Regions from separate parts of the Homo sapiens genome. Here region 1 is linked to region 2. The links come from fine-mapping of genetic effects on gene expression. Tissue or cell type: activated CD8 T cells. Region 2 holds a variant in brackets; the other region holds the start of a gene. All regions are shown on one strand. Distances are between the middles of the regions.

Evidence for each region. PIP is the estimated chance that this variant, and not a neighbour inherited with it, causes the effect.
Region 1: ANKRD10 starts here. The variant in region 2 is fine-mapped to the expression of ANKRD10 in activated CD8 T cells (Schmiedel 2018, PIP 0.95).

The regions. Positions count from the first base shown.
Region 1 is chr13:110,910,947-110,919,124 of GRCh38, forward strand. ANKRD10 (ankyrin repeat domain 10) reads right to left here and starts at 4,123. Exons shown (of 6, transcript NM_017664.4): 1 at 3,779-4,123. The coding sequence starts at 3,988. RefSeq lists enhancers at 2,735-3,411, 3,135-3,264, 4,763-5,437 and silencers at 3,375-3,744, 4,015-4,674, 4,805-4,964.
Region 2 is chr13:110,870,905-110,879,082 of GRCh38, forward strand. It overlaps ANKRD10 (ankyrin repeat domain 10), which reads right to left. Exons shown (of 6, transcript NM_017664.4): 6 at 7,636-8,178. Among named protein-coding and RNA genes, the nearest start is that of PRECSIT, 4.7 kb to the left of the region's middle. RefSeq lists an enhancer at 1,950-2,827 and a silencer at 3,765-3,984. The variant CAAGG/C (reference allele first, on the strand shown) is at 4,963.

The sequences.
Region 1 (8,178 bases), 40 kb after region 2:
TTCCCTTGTCCTTATGAAAAAGACGGTAGATAGAAATAGAAAAATGCAAAAAGACGACTAACACTATACAGATTTAAATATTTGTTTCCCTACAATTGAATAAGCCAAAATCAGAAAATATTGGACTGCGCTGTTCCAAGACTTCTATCAAAACTGTTTGTTGCACAGACTATTCTAAACAAAAACGTTAAAGGGATTGGTGGGTTAAAAAACTTTGTGTAGGCCGGGCGCAGTGGCTCATGCCTGTAATCCTAGCACTTTGGGAGGCCAAGGCGGGTGGATCACTTGAGGTCAGGAATTCGAAACCAGCCTGGCCAACATGGTGAAACCCCATCTCTACTAAAAATACAAAAAAATTAGCCGGGCGTGGTGGCGGGCACCTGTAATCCCAGCTACTTGGGAGGCTGAGGCAGGAGAATTGCTTGAACCCAGAAGGCGGAGGTTGCAGAGGGCTGAGATCACGCCACTGCACTCCAACCTGGGCAACAGAGCAAGTCTCCATCTCAAACACCAACACCACCACCACCACTTTGTGTAATGCCAGGCGCAGTGCCTCATGCCTGTAATTCCAGCACTTTGGGAGGCCAAGGCGGGTGGATCACCTGAGGTCAGGGGTTCAAGACCAGCCTGGCCAACACGGCGAAACCCCATACTGGGGTTTCAAAAATACAAAATTACAAAAATTACCTGGGTGTGGTAGTGCATACCTAGAATCCCAGCTACTCAGAAGGCTGAGACAGGAGAATCACTTGAACCTAGGAGGTGGAGGTTGCAGTGAGCAGAGATCACGCCGCTGCACTCCAGCGTGGGCAACAGAGCAAGACCCTGTCTCAAAAAAACAAAAAACAACAACAAAAAACCCCACAAACTTTGTGTAGCCATAGTAAACTCGTCATAGTCAAAGACTATTTTCTATAGTGTGCACAACTGTGCACTTTTACACAAGCCAGCACTGAATACTCATTGAATAATCAATAGAGGCCCCATTCTCCACATTTTTTTACTCTTTTCAAAACCCTATGGGGGAAAAAAGCCTACAGCATAACTGAGCAATGCACCTAGTGGGTGACTAACATGGCAAGTTAAGACTTTGTGGCCAAGCACCAATACCATGATAGCCTCTGGCTAAAATAATTTAGCGCATTCAACAAATTTACCAAGTGCCTACCATGTGCCAAGCAACTGTTCAACCCACGTTCTCTGATCCTGGACTGCTCATTTTCCCTCACTCCAATCACAATGCAGTTAGGGAACAAGCTATGCCTGACTGCAAGCAATTCTCTTCAAGAGGAGAGACCTCACCTGAAGACAAAACACCTGACACTACCATCTCAACTCAAGGTTTCTTTTTCCATTTCTCTTAGCACTTTCAGGCTTTCAGTAAACACTCCTGTGAGATGAAGAGTACACAGATTCAAAACACCCTCTTCAACCAACTTGGACCTGGGAGTAAAGGCTGATGTCTATTTATTGCCTTTATTAATTCACTGGGTGAAAATGAAAGTATTAATTAGCGATAAGATGAACAGGTTGCAAATCCAATAAAAATAAAACGGATGAAAATCACTTGGCGTACCAAAAATCAGCTATTCAGGGCTCGCTGGCTTTAAACCTGTTACCCTTGGGTTCAATTTAGAAACTTGGATTTGGAATTCTGGAAAGATACTGTTCAATATGGTATAAAAGCTACAACAGAGATTTTAAACAACTCGTTTAGTCCTCTGGCAACAAACGAGTCTTACCAACGGTTAGGGGATCTTGTGCACCACTAGCACATTTCTAAGAACACGAGCCTGAAACCTGTGTAAGAGGGCAGCCGTTAGCAGGGCTGGGGAGAAAGCCTGGACTTCGCAAGCGGTAGCCCTGAGTCCTGGCCTGATTTCTGTCCTAACGGCTTCTTCTCAGAAGGGAATGTTTGGACACTGGACAGGGGCTTTCTAAGGCCCCTTCCGTATCTAAGACCAAAGAGCCCTATGATTCAGACAGCTGGAAACAATGAAGTAACTGCTTCTTGTTACAACATTTGATGACCAAGGTAAAGCTACTACTCAAAGTCCCATGGAAGTAGACTTTTGAAAAGTGATTTCAGTCGGTGTTTTTTAAAAAACTGTGATAAAATACACATTAAAAATTACCATTTTAAAGTAACTATTTTAATCCCCAGAGACAAGTGGAGGCACCACTGGATTAAATTTTCTAAGTGACCATCTGTAATGAGGCTTTAAGCATTCTACAGATCGTTGTTCACTGACTATCACCCAGTATTGTGTCGTTCTCAACCAGGGTAGAAAGGACAGAATCCTAAAGTTTAGTGTAAAAATAAACCACAGCAAGAGACACTCTGGAGGGAGGAAATCCTCAGATTACTGACTGCCTCGGGAAATCTATTTAAGGCTGCACGCAGAAGCGCAGGGAGGAGGCTTTATTACTTTTGTTTGTTAAGAAACTCATTTCCCCTGGGCACCTGTTTTCTCCAGCAGGTACTACGGTTGCACAACTTCAGAGACAGTGCCACAGGAACCTAACAGCCCTTGAGGACTGATTAACTTGCTTGTCCCACCCCGATCGTCAAAACTCCTTTTCATTTCTTTTATTGAAAGAAAAGTGACTTTTCCACTTTAAAAGAATCAGAAACTGCTTTCCAAAAGACACAGCTGCTTTGTGAATGTAGCACCAGGGGCAGCAAGGTAAACCGCAACTTCATCAGCTGGTAACGACATTACCAGGGCCAGGCCTTCTTAAAGTAACTTATTTCACATTACCTCTCACATATTTCTGCAAAACCATTTAACCCCATCTCATCACTTACGAGAAAAACACTATACACATCCCTGAATTTCAGTGAATTAAGAAATATTAATTAAAACCAGTCACTTCTGAAATGCACGGTGAAATCTTATTTAAGATTTCTGAGAGCAAGTACCCCAACGACTTCACAGATGAGGAAACGGTAGCTATCCAACCTTTTAAAACCTTAAAGCAGCACTGTGTTCCCCCAGAATTTTCAGTTTAAGAAAAAAGAGGGGAACGTAAAGCCTCCACGGGAAGAGAATTCTGCTTAATTTAACCACTTCTGCAGTAATTTAGATCCAAGATAAACACAGCCGTCACTAATTTTGCTGAAGCGGGGCCAGCTACAAGCCTTAAAGCAAACCCAGAAGCTGGAGAGCCGGCCTCCATCCCACACAGCTGCCGGGGCCTTCCAGTCCCGCCGGGGCGCTTGCTCCTCGGCTGAGCTCGTCCGCAGCGCGGCCCTCGGCTACTGGCGAGGCTGTGCGGAACCAGAAGGTCGACCGCGCCCGGGCATTCCCCGCGCGCCTCTGACCCCAGCTCGGCTCCCCGGAAGCCGCCTGGGCGACTTCGCGGCCTAATACCCGGCTCTGCGAAATCGCTCGCGCCTCCGGCCCGGCCTGGAGGGCCCCGCACCATCCGCGCGCGCGCGCGCTCGCACAGGATCCGGCCAACAGGCGCCGGGACCCTTGGAGCCCGCCTTGTTAGAAACTTGCTACGCGCGCCGCCGCACATGCGCCCTAGGCCCCTCCGGACGCAGGCGCCACCGACCTCGCTTCCGCCCCGCGCCCCCCGGCTGCCCCGCCGCGACTCCGGGCCGCGAGCGCTGCCGCACAGGCGCCCTAGGCCCCTCGGGGCACAGGCGCCGTCGATCCCGCTTCCGCCCCGCGATCCCGGCACGCCCCACGTCCCCCGCACCTCAGACCCGCTTTCCCCGACTCCCACTGGACAGCCGGGGAAAATGGCGCCTTAAAGCGTTCGCACCCACCTTGCCGAAATGCGCGGCCCAGTGCACGGGCGTCCAGCCATAGAAGGAGTCCTCAGAGGCCAGGTGGGCGTGGGGTGTCTGCTGCAGCAGCGAGCAGAGCGTGGCCAGGTCCCCGTCGCGGCAGGCGCGGTGCAGCGGGAAACGGAGCGAGAGCAGCTCCTCGCTGGAGAAGCCCGCCTCTACGCCCGCGCCCGCTCCCGCCGCCGACATGGTCCGTCACCGGAGAGCGCGGGGCTCGCTGGCCTAGAGGACGCGTCGGGGAGGACTCGAGAAGCCGCCGCCGCAGCACAAAGGAACGAGACTAGCGCCGCGGTCGCGTCCCACAGGCTGCCGAGCGGAGCGCGCACAGAGGGGGCGGGGCGGGGCCTGGAGCGGCCGGGCTGGGGGCGGGGCCTGGCCCAGAGGACGCCTTGTGCAGCCGGGCAGGGGTCGGGGCCTGGAGCCGCGGACCTCTGGAGCCGCCGGGCAGGGGGCGGGGCTTGAGCCGGAGGCCGCCTGGAGCAGCCGGGCGGAGGGCGGGGCTTGGAGCTGCGGACGCCTGGAGCGGCCGGTAGGTGGCGGGGTCTAGCCTAGAGGATGCCTGGAGCAGCCGGGTAGGGAGCGGAGCCTGGACCAGAGGACGCCAGCAGCAGCCGATTAGGAGGCGGGGCATGGGGCTGTCGACGTCTGGAGCAGCCGGGCATTGGGCTTGGGCTAGAGGACGCCTGGGGCGGTGGGCGCCTGGAGTAGCCAGGCAGAGGGCGGGGCCTGGCTTGGGTCCACGCCTGGGGCGGCCGGGGGCGGGGCCTGGCTGGAATTGACGCGTGGAGCTCCGGTGGAGGGGGCGGGGCCTGGCTGGGCCGCTGCCTACAGCGGCTTCCGGGGCTTGGAGGTCACGGGGCTCGGAGGTCACGGGGCTCGGAGGTCACGGGGCTGGCTGTGTGGGGGGCTCAGGGGCGTAGAGTGGCCAAGCAGCGGTCTGAGCGGGTCCCGGGGCCTCCGGCGCGGTGGGTCTCGGCTGCGCCCCGGGTGCGGACCATGATGTTTCCAGCCTGGGAGCCGGTCCGGGCGGGGAATCCCGGCTGCCGGGGGCGCGGGTTGAGGCTCTGCGGGCCCGCGCCCAGAGCGGGTGGGAGTCACGGGTCTCCCGGAGGCCCAGTAGCGCGCGGTGAAGTTGTCCAGTAAAAATTTATGGAGCGCCTACGGGGAGCAGGGATTCTCGTTAAAATCTGGGAATCAGCAAGCCCTAGTTCCTTACAGAGCAGGACAGATTCCTCGGTTTTGTCCGAGGGACGCCTTCTTCGGAACCGAGTGCGGTGGGCTAGGACTATACGTTTGCAAGTTTAAGAGATAAGCGAGAAGACCAGACAGAGCAAACAATAAAAGGCTTTTTGTTGAGAACTGTATAAATGTAAGGGAGTACCAAATCCCCTATTTTGAATGACAGTATCACGGACTTTATTACATATGTAATTTTATTCTGATTATGAAAGCATCAGTAATTTCACTATTGAGGAATAACCACAATGTTTATGAATATTTCCTTTGCTTCTAAATATGCGGTCTTTTTAAATCATGTATTTTATTTCATTTGTATATATAGTTTTTCGCTGTGTAAACTTCCTTTTTGCAAAATTCTACGTCACAAATTGAACAAGGCAATTAGATGTCTAGGGAAGTACTGATGCACGAGAAAGCATATTGCAGCATTGGTTAATAAAACGAAAAAATAGAAACCTAAGATTTAACAAAGGGAAGTTGTTAACTAGTGGTGTAAACACTCAACACAGACATGTCTTCATACAGCAAACATTTGTTGAGTACAATGCTGAATGAAACACATTGAGAAACACTCTATAGTGGGGAAGTAGCAAATATTTCAATTCAGTGAGCAATTGCTAATGAATGGAAAATATGACACATAGAATCTATCTTCTCCCAGGGAGTTTGTAATCTGTTAGTGAAGCAGGAAAGAATAATCAAGCAATACTTTTTTGTTTGGACCAAAAGGGTGAGAATAGACTATAAACTCATTTCAGGTTTTGTTTACTCTAGAACGTAATCATTTTTCTTCTCACATGCCATGTTGATTTTAATCTAATCTCTTTAAAATATATCCCCCTGATTTCCATCTTTCTTAGGAGAGAGGTGTCCCATTTTGCGAAAGGACGTGAGTGTATCTTGTCCTCCATGTAATGAAAGGGAGGGATTACTTGCTAGGCTGCATTCTGGGAATGGTGAAACAGAGATGGTGGTAAGTCAAGGAATTTGTCCAAGGGCAAACTGCATGCCTGTGGCAGAGCTTAGAATAATATCCAGACCTAGGTTCCAACCCACTGTTAGATTTTTTTTAACTTTGGAATTTATTTTGCATAGAGTATTAAGGGCTAGGAAGATAAAATAGGTTATAGTGATAGGGTACTTCGTGTACGTCTTTCCTCACTTCAGATGACTGGGTTTTTTAAAGGATTATTTAGACTATATACATATTTATTTAGCTGTACAGGAGTAGACTGACATATATACGTGGTGATGGATCCCCAAGACAGATCCTGTAACTGTGGCAGGAGGATTGTGGATAGGATGGTGTCTACTGACTATTCCCAATGCCAGTGATCTAATTGGTTGGTCACCCAGATTTTGCTCAACTCTGATAATTGTCAGATGCATTCCAACTAGAACTACTCCATCTTAAATGGGGCTGGGTAAGATGAGGCTGAGACCTATTGGGCTGCATTCCCAGATAGTTAAGGCATTCTAAGTCACAGGATGAGATAGGAGGTCAGCACAAGATACAGGTCATGAAGACCTTGCTGATAAACAGGTTGCAGTAAAGAAGCCAGCTAAAACCCACCAAAACCAAGATGGTGACGAGAGTGACCTCTGGTCATCCTCACTGCTACACTCCCACCAGCGCCATGACAGTTTATAAATGCCATGGCAACATCAGGAAGTTACCCTATGTGGTCTAAAAATGGTAGACATGAATAATCCACCCCTTGTTTAGCATATAATCAAGAAATAACCATAAAAATGGGCAACCAGCAGCCCTCGGGGCTGCTCTGCCTAAGGAGTAGCCATTGTTTTATTCCTTTACTTTCCTAATAAACTTGCTTTCACTTTACTCTGTGGCCTCACCCTCAATTCTTTCTTGAGTGAGATCCAAGAACCCTGCCTCTCCTGTGGTCTGGATTGGGACCCCTTTCCTGTAACAATCATTACCAATCTCAGATTTCCTTTGAGACTCTCATTTTTTAAAAGCTCCAAAGAGAAGAAGAGTAGATTCATAACATCTTTTTCATCTGATGAAGCAACCATACACAAGCCAACTTAGGCATTTGAAGATACAATCCAAATCCATGAAAGAAAACAGGAAAACTCAAAACTTAACATATTAAGATTGCCTTTAGACTGGAATTTTTTTTTTTTTCAAAAAAGGATTGCATTGTATGAGAAATTGTGGAAGTGGGGTAGGGCTCAGTTGTGTGAATGGCACAGTGATTCAGTGTCCATACGTGTGACAGACATTGATGGGCATCTCTTGAGTGTCGTTATTACACCAGGAGCAGTGCGCCCTGAGGGACGTGGGGTTGGAGAGCAAGGTAGGCCCCAGTTGATGTTCCATATTAAGCATGCCATGCTAAGGAGTGGCTTTTTACTTTCAAAAAGTTTGGGAACCAATGAGGGGTTTTGTTGTGCCATTTAAGGGAGGGAGTGATGACTTGGGATGGAGGGGTGGGGGGACCCGGGTCAGACTTGCAGCTTGGCTATGAGGATGGAGATCAGGGAGCCCACTGTGACAACACCTTCAGGACTCAACGTGGGCCTGCAAGCCTTGCTGTTTTCTCCTCGGCCCCTTCTCCATTCCTATCCACATCCACTACGCTGGCAAATCCATCTTTTGAGAGGGCAAATCTGCTTAAAAATTGATGTAGGAACAGTTTCCAAAACTTGTCATTCAGATACCACCTGCATGTGGATTTTTTTTTTTTTAGACAGGATCTCACTCTTGTCACCCAGGCTGGAGTACAGTGGTACAGTCATGGCTCACTGCACCCTTGACCTCCTGGGCTCAAGGGATCCTCCTGCTTTGGCCTCCGAAAGCCCAAAGCACTGGGATTACAGGTGTGAGCCATGGCTCCTGGCCATATGTGGACTTTTATATCTACATAGGATTGATATTTTTTTCTTAAAACTGGTTCACTTTTTTAAACTTAGCCACTTCATTCACATCCTCTCATTAATAAACCATTAGTGAGTTTGTGGTGCTGGTTACATTCTCTCCCTACCCATTTAAACAAATAGATATCAAAATAGAGTTTGATCTATAAACCTTCCAAATTGGCTCCTGCCATTCGAGGTTTTCAGACCACACCTGGGAAAATGCTCCCAGCAAGCAAAGTCCAAGATCAGACCCTTGG
Region 2 (8,178 bases):
CAAGCTGGGAACTGGGTCATGCAAACCTGCCTCCCCTTTTGGTCCCTAAATAAGATGCTGCAAGATGAAAAACTGCACACCTCCCCTATATTTTGTCCACAAGGAAATTCCTAGTGAGCTCCGCAATCTTTACTGTAAGGTGTTTCTGTTAAGATTTCACCACAGCAATGCAAATCGATAGCTCATCTTTACAGGTGCAGTCAACCCCTGCCCGCCAGACACAAATGCAAACCTGATTGTTCCCCTGCCCCCTTTGTCTAAGTCATCTTGTGTAAAAATAATGCAGATTCAATGAGCCAAACGCATGACTATTTTTCTCTACCCGCCTCTTAGATGAAAATTGTGTACTTGTCATTATCTCACCCTTTCCCCTTTAAATTTGGAGCCCTCAAAATCATCTTCGGAGAAAGGTACAGACTGTCTCCCGAGTGTTCGTCCTTAACTTTGGCGAGTAAACCTCCTAAAATGATTGAGACTTGTCTTGTCATTTTTCTCAATTGATACACCTCAGTCTCCCAAGTAGCTGGGACTACAGGCATGCGCCACCAAGCCCAGCTAATTTTTGTATTTTTTGTAGAGACAGGGTCTCACGTTGTTGCCCAGGCTGGTCTTGAACCCCTGAGCTCAAACAACCTGCCCGCCCCGGCCTCCCAAAGTGCTGGGATTACAGGCGTGAGCCACTACGCCTAGCCAAGAGAATTTTAAAACCATTGAGGAAATAGTGCCATTGTTGTGAATCAGAGACTTGATGTGCTATTTCATGTAGTGGTTCCTGTCGTTTTGCTTGCAAAATTGGCTTCAATTATCTTGAATTATATGAACTGTCAGAAAAGCCCTGCGGCAGATGATGGTAACGAAAAGACATCCTTTAGCAGACAGGGAATAGGACTGATTCACTGATGCATCTGAGTTGCAATTTTTTTAGCTGCTTCTAAAAATCTTGTAATTAAATTCACTGGTGAGAGCACAGTAGCCTTCATAAATGGGAAAACAGAAACATCGAAGTTGTTCTCAAACCATCCTGGAATCTTAAAGTTCAGGGGGCACCTGGCAGAGGGGAGCCACAGAAAGACGGCAGGGAAGGGAGGGTTAAGGCGAGGCCGGGATAAGCCAAGCAGGGCTGTTCTGGTTTATCTTTCTTACTTTGTTCTTAAGAAAACTTGCTGAATGTAGTTGGCTTCAGATCTTCCTGTTTTAAAAAAAACGCAGTAAGATGAAAAACCTGATGTGTCCTCTGCCCTTCCCCGTCCCTCCCGCCTCTCCCTGCGGGGGGTGAGCACTCCTCAGAGTGCCTGGTGGAGAGGCCCCTGCCCTCCCCTGCACGGAGCTGGGGTGGCCTTAGGCCAACAACCATCAAAGAACTCAGGCCCTTAGTTCAGCGACCCGGGGGGAACTGGGTCCAGTCACCAGCCATGTGCGTGAGCTTGGATGCAGAGGCTCCAGGGGAGCTTTCAGATGAGACTGCAGCCCTGGCTGACACTGCACTGTGATCTCCTGAGAACGTGAGCCCAAGGAAGGGGCCCCTCCCCGGGTGGGACGTCCTGCCTCACAGCTCAACGCTCTGCTGCTGCTGTCAGTGCTGTGTTTTGAGGGGGATGCCCAGTTCTGCACTGACCAGCTCTAACCCTGGGGACACTGCAGCCCTGGTCATGGCCTGGGGACCCCTTCAAGGTGACCTTCCAGCACAGGTACTGGGCGAGTACCCACCCCTCAGCCTCTGCCAGACTTTGCCCAAGAGGCACATCCCTCTTTGCTGCACTGTGGACCTGCCTGCCCAGGTACTGGGGCACTTGGTCATCTGGTGGCTGTGACCATTACTGGGATGAGGCCTGAACTCCAGGTGGAGACCCCTTTCCCAAGCCTGCACTTCCCGCAGCCCCTCCCTGAGCCCTGGGACCTCCCAGAGTCCTCTTGACCTGTGTGGCTCTGCTTGCACAGGTTAGAAACTTCTAGTTCAGCTTCCCTGGCTGAGCCCTGCCGGTTTTTCTGCTGAATGCCCAGAGAATTGGGGGACCCATGGCCCCCCGCCCCGCCTGGCCACGGGGCTCGACAACACAGCAGCTGTAGGGCTTTTCACCTGGCCCTCACCTGTGGGGCCTCCGCCTCGTCCTCAGCTCTCCCTGCGGATTGACCACAAAGTGGTCACTCAGAGTCCCCTCGGGGATGGTTTCAGAGCTTCACCGGCCTCCCTTCCCCACCCTGCAAACCTTCAAAGCCCGAGCCCACGCCTCGCACGTGCTATTCCCAACAGAGAAAAATGTGACCCCATCCACGTCCTGCCCCAGACACCCAGGAGCTCCAGTCCTCTCCCCTTTCCGCGGACTGGAAGCTTCTCCAGGGCTTGAGATGTCCACCTTCCCAGCGATTCCTGCCCGGGAGACTCCGATTCCGACCCCATTCTGTCCACATGTCCCCTTTCCAGCCCCATCTCCCCCTGCCCATTTCCTGAGACCTCTCTAAGGACCCTAGGCTCCTGAGCGGACCCCAGCAGGGCCCCTGAGCTCCATGATTCTGCACTGCCTGGGCCTTCCCGCCAGAGCCGACCCTGGCCCCCAACAGGAGGCCGAGCTGCCCTCAGGGGCCTCTTCACGGTGGGCAGGCGCCCCCGACCCCGGCCTCTCCTCCCCAGTGGCCTCTCCGCCCCTCCCCTCCCCCATGGCCTCTCCTACGCTCCCTCCGCCCTCTCCCATGGCCTCTGATCCTCCTCCCTCCCCCCTCGCCAAGCGCCTGCTCTTCCATCCATTCTCCACATCGCACATCACACACAAGACATTCACACACATGCATATATTCACACCCACACAAGTCACACATATATTCACACACACACGTCACACGACATTCACACACATGCATACATTCACACACATCCACACCCACACAAGTCACACACACATAACATTCACACACGCACATTCATCCACACATGTACAAGTGACACATTCACACACCTGCATTCACACACATCCAGATACACAAGTCACATTCACACACATGCCCACACCTCGACACAACACCCACATGCAACATTCACACACATCCACACGTGCACAATAGCCACACACGTTCACACATGCACACATATAACATGTTTCACATACACTACCACCCATGCACATCAGCCACACATATAAAACAGTCACACCTGCACACACACAGTCACAAACGTCACACACATATAGCATTCACACATGCACAGCAGCCACATTTACACACATCCACATGCATCACACATTCATACACATCTGCACACACGTCACACAAATCAACATTCATACGTGCGCACACATCATACACATCCACACACATCACGTACATTCACACATAAACATTCACACATTCACACACACCAGATTACCACTCACATCCAATACTCAACGCTTCCCTTCACATTCTCACACATTTGCACACTCACACATTGCCAACGACACACTTCCCTCCACATTCCCCCTACATTCCCACACTGACACGCTCTCACACACTCCCAGTCCTCGCACACATTTGCACACTCACATCCATACATGGACACACATCCTCATGCTCGCTCACTCACATGCATTTGCAAACACTGATACACATCCTCACACGCACACTCGCACACTCAGGGTCTCCCTGGCTGCAGCTGTGCCCGGGCTCACTGTTACCGTTGCTCAGTGCAGACTCTTGGGGTGGTGTCCACCTCCAGCCCCCAGCTCCAGCCGTGCCCTGCCGCAGCCCCCGCTACCCTCCCACCGCCCCGGGACCCCTCACCCGCCCCGGCCCATCCCAACCACGGCCTCGCCCCAACCTTGGCTGCGGTTCCCCAAGCAGAGCCGCGCCAGAACCGCCCGGCTCACCCCCCTCTCCCCGCCCCTGCGCCTCTCTCCCGGTTCCCGCCCTCCTGATGGTTCGTCCCTGCACCCGCGCCGGCGCCCCGCCCCCGGTTCCCGCCCTCCCGAGGGCTCCTCCCTTCCACCCGCTGCCTGTTTCTTGGCTCCCCCTTTCCGGGAAACTCTTCAATGTTTCCCATGTTCTGTCTCCAAATTATTCTCCCGTTTTCTTCTCCTTAATAAAACCCCGAAAATCCAACCTATGGAAAAGTCAAAAAGGGTAATTCAATGAATACCCAGTCTACATTTTCCAGTATTTATCACTAGTTGCTTAGATCTCATCATTCAAAACATTCCAGCAGTTCTCTCACTGTGGCCTGCAGAACCCCAGGGTCCCCAGGACCCCATTTCAGGGGGTCCCCAAAATCAAAACGGTCTCATTACCGAGATGTGATTTGCCTTTTTCAGTGTTGACTTCGGCACTGAGGGTTCAAAAGAAATGGTGGGTAAAGCTACTAGCACCTTAGCAAAAACTGCCCCGGCCTGATCACCTTCATATTCTTCACTGCCGTGCAGTCAAAAAAAAGAAAAAAACCCAATTTCACTTAAGAATGCCCTCAATGCTGTAAACATGAGTAAATTTTGACAGCACACGTTCTCTGTGATGTAAAGGGAAGTGTGCATGAAGGATTTGTTGTGTACAGCTGTCTCCAGGAAAAGCACGGCTCTGGCTGATTGTGCGATAAGTGTATCCAGTGACTTTTTCAGAAACGTCATTTTCATTTGAAATAATGATTGACAAGCTATGTGATTAAAAAAAAAATAACCAGGTTGTAATGCAGTGGCTCAAGCCTGTAATCCCCGCACTTTAGGAGGCCAAAGTGGGCGGATTGCTTGAGGTCAGGAGTTTGAGACAACCTGGGTAAAATAGTGAGACCCCATCCCCCCAAAAAAAAAAAAAATTGCCGGGCATGGTGGTGCACGACTGGAGTCCCAGCTACCTCCAAGGCTGAGTCAGGAGGATCCCTTGAGCCCAGGAAGTCAAGGCTGTAAGGAGCCAAAATCGCATCACTGCACTCCAGCTTGTGCGACAGAGTGAGACCCCGTCTCAATTTAAAAAAACCAAAAAATTAACCAAGTGAGTCTTCTACTT[CAAGG/C]AAAACTGACAGTATTTGTGTCCAATGATAAAATTTGAGTTTTTCAGCAAAAATCAGGATGTTGTAAAACTTGTATCCAGTACCATGAGCTTGACAACTTCCAACTTTTGACTTTCATGAGATTATTGGTGATCAATGTTTTATTTTTTTGAGACAGAGTCTTGCTCTGTTGCCCAGGTTGGAATGCAGTGGCGTGATCTCGGCTCACTGCAACCTCTGCCTCCCAGGTTCAAGCGATTCTCCTGCCTCAGCCTCCCAAGTAGCTGGGATTACAGGTGCGTGCCACCACACCCAGCTATTTTTTTTTTTTTGTATTTTTAGTAGAGATGGGGTTTCACCTTGTTAGCCAGCATGGTCTCTATCTCCTGACCTCATGATCCACCTGCCTCGGCCTCCCAAAGTGCTGGGATTACGGGCGTGAGCCACCGCACCTGGCTGGTTATCAATGTTTTAATATTAATGAAAAGTTTCAACATTTGAAAGACTTGCAGAACTCAATTAAAAAATATTTCCCAAGTAATGCATAAAAAATTATGCATGGGTTAAAGGTCCATTCTAAGTGAAAGATGGACTCTACAGGAACGATACAAGAAGCTCACTGATGTGGATCCTGATTCAACATTGCAACTAGCCTTTAAGAAACTACTGTTACTGAATGGAAGGTCTTGACTGCGAGTTGTCCAGGTTCCTGGTGCAGCTGAATAAAGAATGGAACCAAACACACAAAGCAACAAAAGAAGTAAACAACGAAAGAAGCAAAAAAAGCGCAGATTTATTGTAGCAAAAGTACCCTCCAGAGTGGGAGCCAACTTGAGCCAGGGTCAAGAGTGCCCCCTCTAGGGTTTTTACTAAGCTAAAAGAATTTGGTAACACCCCTAGGTGACCTTTAGAGGCCTCCAATTGGCTGCACCCTATGAAAGATTAGCCTGCAACCAATCAGAGGCTGAAGTGGAGACTGTCTTGTTATCACAGGTAGGAGGCTGTGGTCTGAGTGCTGCCTAATCTTGCCTAGAACTGGCTGTACCTGCTGTTCTTTTGCTTATGCCTTAGCCCTTGGTTACCCTAACTTCCTATTCTCCTGCCCCACGACCACTACAGAGTTTGGGCATGGTATCAAGTACTCACAATTAACTGCAAAGACGATTCAAATATCCCTTTTTCCAATTACCTATCTGTGTAAGGCCAGATTTTCTCCACATACTTCAACCAAAAATTTATTTAGGTATTCTATCTCTGAGTAATGTTTTATAGTTTTCAGTGTAGAGGTCTTGAACATCTTTTGTTAAGATATTTTCATAGGTATGCCATGGTTTGGGTGTCACTGTAAATGGGCTTTATTTCATTTTCCAATTGTTTCTACTAGTACAAGAGAATGCATGCATGGGAAAGTATCTGCAGGCCAAAAAGGCTAAGACTCAGTGAGCTATTCTTGCAGTCAGTATAAACGTCAATTCTGGTGGACACAGAAATACCTAAGCTTATTCTCAATGTTAAAATGACAACCATATTTTTTAATAGAGCATTTTTTCTTCAAGTCCTGAAAAAAAAAACCCCAAAAAACTTGTCTCAAATAAATACAAAATACACAGACTAACGCACCTTCACATACCCACCACCCAGATTTAACATCGGCCTGCACCAGTTGTGTTTGATCCTTGTCTCCACTCACCAGGGATCATGGGCTCCACTCATATTTTTATGGTTTGAAGCAAATTCCAGGCATGAAAGCAATTCCATCATCACCATTTCCTTATGTATCACTAAATAAGAACTGAATATACTGGTGTAAATGACTCTAAACTAGAATATGACAAACTACTTCAATCATCCACTCAAGTGTGGATGTTGCCCTACTCTAGGTTCTATGCAACATTTTTGTTCCTAAGCAGTCATCTTCTGTCCAAAAATTCAAGACTAATCAAAAGTATGTTTACTGTGTTTTCAGAGATTCACAACGTTTTTCAGCAAATAATTAAGTCACTATAGAACATCTGGAATACCTTAGAAAACAGTCCAAACGGGATGGCATCAAGTTTCATCTCTCTTAAAAACTCAGTAGTGTGGGTGGCTTCTTGGATCAGTCTGAGGCCAAATCTCAGTTCTAAGCTTGATTACTAGTGTCTGCCATAGGATGGGAGGCGGTGGCCTGGACAGCGCCATGCATTCTCTTCCTGTTCTCACTGTAATTTTTGCAAAACTTCCAAAGCATAATGCTCCCTCATTGTGGTCTATTAAGTTTTTACAAGAATATGCATGATGCAGTGAATGTTTTAAATTGCATATGTAGGCATGCCAGAATGGCTATATTGGTGCTATTTATAACTGTAATTCATATTCCTAAAAGGCTTACATTAATTAACAGTTGCTAAAACCAAAGAAGTTTAGAACATTATGGTTGCTGTCTTTTATGAAAATAAGCACCCAGGCACAATACTGAACTGACATGCAATTCATCCTTCCTCCACAGAGGTTCAGTACCAACGGTGCCCATAAAACTAGAGTAGAAACTCAAAAATAGAAAAAACACCGTATGAAGAGTGTCAGAAGAGTCAAGTAAAATCTTATAAGCAAAATGAAACAATAGTAAACTTCTCTTCCCTTCCCATTCCTTCCACAGATATCCACACCCCGCCGGCCCCCAAGCCCAGAGAGAAACCCCAGGGACACACTGAGTGTGAGAGTTTTTTATTCAATTTGTGAAGGACAGTTTTAGAACAAAATGTTAGTAACACTCTTAGAACACTGGTTTGTTCATTTGACATTTTATCTGCACCAATTTTTATTACAAAAATCAAAAAAGTAAAAATTCATTACAATATTTGCAGAGTATAACCACTAGTTGCCTAGACAAAAGCTAATTTCTACAAAATCAAAAACTTAATGCAGTTTTATTAAGAGAGTCAAAATTCTCTCAGTTAACTGGATATACATAGTGGTATATATCTTAAAGCAGAAAACCCCAAAAAACAAAAACAAGGAAAAAAGAAAATACATGTCAACAGTCAGTTAAATATTTTGACCTGACAGTTTCTACAAATAGTGATTTCCACTACATATAAAGGAATCTGTTACATGTGGTAAAACTTCCAGAGACCAAGTAGGAAGTGTGGAATAAAAACAATAAATCCAAACGCAGCCCCAGGCTGGGCCTGTTTTCCATGAAGCCCAAGGCAGTGATCTTCATCATTAAGGAGGGACCACTGTGTCCACAA